2 separate regions of the Homo sapiens genome follow, and region 1 is linked to region 2. Evidence: fine-mapped expression QTL. A gene starts in region 2. The other region holds a variant in brackets. All regions are shown on one strand. Distances are between the middles of the regions.

Region 1 (2,924 bases), 130 kb after region 2:
TACCTGATAACATTGCATAAAAAGATTATCATGGCTTTCATTGCTTCTTGGCCTTTTGGCTAAAATCAAGTGTAAAAAGATTGCCATGGCTCTCAAAAAAAAAAGGAAGAAGAAGAAAAGACAACTTAGGAAAAGAACTTCTAACAGTGGGATTTTCCCTTTTCTTGATATTGCAGAGTTGATTATACTTGGGTTAGTTTTCTTGAATGGAAACCTTTTCTATGGCACTTTAGAGATTGTAAATAATTAGTGTTACTCTATGTTATCAGGACTCCACTGTAAGGATATTATACCCAACACCAACACTTTGAAGTATCTTCGCATTGGTGGGACAATAAAAGAAAAGACTTCTAGAATGGTGGTGGTGGTAGTATTTTCTACTCAACAGAATAGGTGTTGAGCACCTAAGATGCCGTGTAGTAGGTGCTGGGACTACAGAATCCAGTAAAGACTACGCACTGCTGTGGAGGAGCTCAGATTAATATCACTCTACAGGGGGTTTGTCAGTCAGCACATGGCCTGTGTTTCTCTGCATTTTAGCTAATTTTCTGGGTCTGATCTCCTAAGAAAACACCCTTGGGAGGGTGGGGTATGTGTGTGTGTGTGTGTGTGGTTTTTCTTTTCTTTTTTTAAACTAATCTTGCAGAAAATTTTGAGAAATATAGAAAATAATACTAAAAATTTAAATTGTCCATAGTTCTAGCACTCAGAGAAAACCAATGGAACTTGAAAATATATCTTTCCAATTGTTTTGGAAAAGAACTGAAAATATAGTTTTGTGTAGAAAGTTAGAAAATTCAGAAAAGCACAAAGAATATAAAAATCACCTGTAATAGGCCTCTCAGAGGTAACACCTGCTAACATTTGTTCTATATCCATCTAGACTTTTGTGTGTACTTTTTTTTAACCAACATGGGATCATATAGTAATAATTTGTAGCATCTTTTCCAGTTATAAACATTTTCCAATGTCATTAAATCTCCTTTTTCAACATTACTTAATGCCCAGTATTATATTATATGAATATGTTAAACCTCATATAATCAGTCCCCTGGTTTAGATTCTTCCCAGAACCTAAACAATGCTTTCTTAAACCACCTGTAGAAAAATCTCTGTCCAACATCATAATTATTTCCTTAGGATAAATGTATAGCTATGGAATTGGTGGTGAACACGTTTTTAGGATTGCTGGATTGTCCACCAGGCAGGTTACAGGCATTATTTTCCCTGCACTTCACAAGTTGATGTTATAACTTAAAACCTTTATGA[GT/G]TTGATAAGTAAAAAATAAAAAAACACACAGGCAACTTGTTTTAATTTGCATTTCTCATACTACTAGCATAGTTGAACAATTTTTATGTCTTTGACTCTGTGTGTCTCTTTGTGTGAATTGTCTATTAAATAGCCTTTGCCCAATTTTCTACTAAAGAATTTATCTTTTTCTTTATTTTAAAAAGTTTCCATAATATAAAGGACATATATGAAAGATATTGACACTTTTTCTATCACATAACTGTCCAGTTTATCATTTAGCTATACAGAATCAGTCTTCCCTCACTGATTCAAGTTGCTACCTTTGGTGTATACTTATTTTTGTTTATGGCTAAGTCTCTTTCTAGACTTATTCTTCCAGTCCATTGATCCATCTCTTCTTCCTGTGCCAATATATACCCTTTCATTCTCCTTTTTTTTTTTCCATGCCCTTATCTATTTTCACCAGTTTATTTTTCCTGAAAAAAATTTTAATCTGTGAATTCCCCAACCCCTAAATTCTTTGGGGAGTTTAAAAATTGACATTGCATAATTCCAATATAAATTAACCTTTAAAAGTTCATGCTTATATATTAGATCTTTTCATCCAGGATTTGGTATGTGCCTTAATTTATTCAGATTTCTCTTCTGTCTCTAAGCAAAGTTTTGTAGCAAAGTTTTCCACACAGGTCTTATACATGTCCTGTAAAAGGTATTCCTGGATTTATATATTTTTAGATTGCTATTGGTTTCCCATCTTAGTTAACTAATTGATTATTGTTGGAATATAAACATATTTGAATCTTTTGTTGTTACATACCCTTTATTGATGATAATTCTGCTATTTCTTTCTCTTAACTGAGAATTCCTCCAATTTAAAACAAAGCCTTTCAATGAATCCCTCAGCAAATGGAGACTGAGCAAACACATATAAGCTACAGCCAATAGGTCAGGAGCCAGGTGGTAGAATAGACTCTTTTTTCAAAAGATGGCTCTGGCGTCTCCTTTAATAGTAGACATCCATTTTTCTGGAGTGGTACATATGCAGCTCTTGCTAGAATTAGGTGCCTGGTCTAGAGCTACTACCTCTGCCAGAGTCTTCTGACCCTGTGACAGAAGATTTCTGTGTGTGCTCCATGGGGAAGACTCTGCAGCCCAATCTAAGCTGTTATTTCCATTTGGTCAAACAGTATTTCAGTGGCATCTGGTCTGGCATGAGAAATCAATTCAGTCAGGTCTCTTCTGGAAGAATATTCTAATTGATTACAGGTCCCTATAGTTGTTCCTTTTGGGTTTTGATTTTTCAAATGACCAAGTCCCTTATATGGGAAGGGCTGGGGCCTGACTTTTGCACTGGGCCTGAGTTGTGGTATGCATTGCATCACTCTTATTGTTTCTGAACTTTCTTGACCACATTCAGATTTCACTCTGGGATGTTGTAACAAGTCCATGTTTGTTGCAACATGGGGTAAGGTTATTACGAAGGAGAGACACAGCGATCAGTGTATAAATCCAATCTATATTGATGGTCTGGAGAAGAACTCACATTTGTACCACAAGAATCATCTTCCTTGTACTATAACCCTTGAGTAGATGACACCTGCCTTTGGCAAGACTTGGAGGAGAGACACATGCTGGTCATTTGACCAATTTCCAGTCTCCTACCTGGGACCCT
Region 2 (2,924 bases):
GATTTATTCTTAGGTGGTGGTTCCGGTTAACTTCCAGACATAAAATCCCCTTTCTATTTAGATGCCATTCTAGTTGTAGGCAGAATGGGTGTCTTCAGAGAACGTAAGGGTCAAATGGTGGCCTTCCTGCTAACAGAGAGAGTACTGAGACTAAAATTTGGTTTTGGAGGACATGTTCCTCCTTGCTGCTGAAAGCAGAGTTCTCCCACTTGCAGAGGGGGCATAAGGTTTGGTCTCTATTAGAGGGATGTAAAAGGGAGGAGAACTGAAAAGCCAGAGACTTTTAGCAAAGGGCAGACAAGATTCCTCATGGAGAGGATTCCCATTTTACTAGGTGGTGCTAGTGGAATACCAGGCAGTAACTTTGCCTCCATATGCTCTTTAAACAAAGGATGGAGAGAGAAGTCTGACCTGTGGCATGCTGTCCCCACAGCATACCTCCTAACAGGAGAAAGTTAGTTTGCCTCATAGAGGGGCTATCCGGTCCGACTGGACAGTGCTGGTTCCTCACATGGGAAAAGAAACAGCCTAAGTGGACAGAGGGGCATTTACTGGGGGGAAAATAACCTCCCACCCAACCCCAGGAAGTATTATCATTAGGAGTTAAATAGTCTTTGAGATCTGGATCATGGAATTCCCCTGTCTGTAAAAAGTCAGAAAAACAGCAATCCCTTAACCTGCATTCCTGGTTACTACGGTGGTTGCTAAACCTGCCTAATTGAATTATTTCCTGGGCTATAAAAATTCCTGCAGCATTGCATACAGAGAGGAGATGGGAGACATGGTGACTGCAGAAAGGAAAGGAGGAAAATAAGATTTGCAATAGGAAAACTTGGAGATCCTATGGCTGACACCCAGTCAGGCAATCAGAGGCTGGGGTCAGTCCAGGAGCCTTTTGAATAACACCAGGGTGTGGCCCTGGCCAGAAATTCTCAGTTGCTCCAGGACCTATTCCAGCCCCATACAACAACCAGGCTTTCTGTGAAAAGAAACTAGTTTGGACACAGCCAACATTCCCGGCACCCTGAGGGCAGGTCCTCCCCAGCAAGCCTCACATCTGAGTCTTCAAGACTGGTGGCCAGCCCTTGTGGCTCCTTAATCAGCTGTCAGATGCCCGGTGTTTTTGATAGTTATTTGAGAGAATAAAAACGGAGGACAAGAAGCCTCGGAAGTGAAAGTAGAGTCCGCTCCTTTACTCACCATTCTGATGAAGTCACCTTCAAATCCCAGACGAGCCCTCAAAATGAAGCAGCCTTGTTGTCTGGGGTGAATACTGAGGTTCTTGGTCACACGACCAGATATTGAGGTCAAGGACATGCACACACACATCGAGTGAGTTTGGAGCAGGAGTTTAATAGGCAAAAGAACAGAACAGCTCACAGTCACAGAGAGGGGTCCCGAGCAGGTTGCTAAGCAGTAGTAAAAATGTCAGGGTTTTTATAAATGGTCTAGGGAGGAGGGGCCTCATGAGGAGGGGATGTCTTATCCTCTTAGGGCCTGATGGTTTAGCTGCGACCAAGTGTGCTATCTATATAGAGCAGAATTTTTTTTATCAGCTTTTATCCCATTCCCTGACCACATAGGCTGACTCTTAGTCTGTGTTTCTTTGTCTTGCTTATCTGGGAGGGAGAGTTTCTGTGTCTGTTCCCATACATCTTCTTGCAGCTGCAGGCATCCGCCCCATGAGTCTGCTTTTAGTTTCTCTATCTTAGTGCACCTAAAGGGAAAGGAATGTGCTTATTAAGACCCACTGTTTTACTGGGGCCCATTGTATAAGTGTGAAGTTTGGCAATTACCCAGGAGACTTCCACCCCTTCTTCTGTGCTTGAGCTGTCTTATCTGTATTTTACAGCCTGAACTTTCAGGTTACTTGTTGTTAGAAGAGAAGTGATTTTTTTTAACTGTGTGTGGTTAGAAAGGGAGCTATTTTTGAGCTGCTTTTTGTTAAAAGGAAAGTTTTCTGCTGGGGACTCACTTTACCCTAAATGTCTACCTAAATAATTTCTTTTTGCCTCCTATAACACTGGTAGTGTCTTCCAGCATGCTACCCTCCAGTTAGCTCCTTGGGGGCCAACACCTTCATGCTGGGTAGGTACAGTGATTCTATGTGCACCACAAACTACCTGGCCTAGCCTCTGCCCCCAAGACCTTGTCTCAGTAGACTTTTGGCCAGAGAAGTATCCCCTGGTTCTTAGCTGCTATTTAGAATCTCCTTGAGATTTGGGTAAAAACACTTGACCATGAGACCATCTTTCTATCCAAAAAGAATTCATTTTACTCAGCCTCAATGTTGCTAACAGTAACAACAACCGTAGCAATAATAGAAAATGTTTATTAAGCTCTACTATGTGTCAGACATAGAGATAGATGCTTTCCATGGGTTATCTGTTTTAATCCTGACAGAAGCTTGTCTTACTGTTGAGAAGGTAAAGTATAGTGAGTGAGGCTGGCTGACTTGCCCACGGTCTCAGAACTATTAAGTGGTATATTCAGGATTCTAGATAATTCCTAGAACACTTTCCTTTCATCTTTGCATGATCAGCTGCCTCAAGTCTGATTCCAGAGCTGGAGTTCAAGCCACTGTTCTATGCTGCTGCCCATCTCTGAAGAGAACATTGTCCTGAATCTATGTATCTTCTTCTTTTCCCTTTTTCATAAAAAGAGAAAGGCATAGGACCCACCTTTTTTTTCAGTTTATCCTAATTCTTTGGTTACAAGGACACCATAATTCAAAATGTAGCCCATGTTACATTCAGAATTATCAGCATAAAGGGTGAGGAGACATTTGGCACAACCAACCCCTTTTCAGTGCCTGTTATGTGTGGGCCAATGCAAGGCAGACTGTTGGAGAAGACAAGGATTATAATCCCTAGTTCTTGTGTTCAAATAGTCTATGAATACTAGCACAGCTAAGGCATGCACAA

What was found. PIP is the estimated chance that this variant, and not a neighbour inherited with it, causes the effect.
Region 1: its variant is fine-mapped to the expression of SMANTIS in whole blood (INTERVAL, PIP 0.92).

What each region holds. Positions count from the first base shown.
Region 1 is chr2:69,924,657-69,927,580 of GRCh38, forward strand. The region is part of intron 3 of MXD1 (MAX dimerization protein 1); the gene reads left to right. Among named protein-coding and RNA genes, the nearest start is that of MXD1, 11 kb to the left of the region's middle. RefSeq lists an enhancer at 2,481-2,775. The variant GT/G (reference allele first, on the strand shown) is at 1,270.
Region 2 is chr2:69,797,588-69,800,511 of GRCh38, forward strand. SMANTIS (SMARCA4 interacting SWI/SNF chromatin remodeling complex scaffold lncRNA) reads right to left here and starts at 1,411. Exons shown (of 3, transcript NR_164155.1): 1 at 1,201-1,411. The region is part of intron 3 of ANXA4 (annexin A4); the gene reads left to right.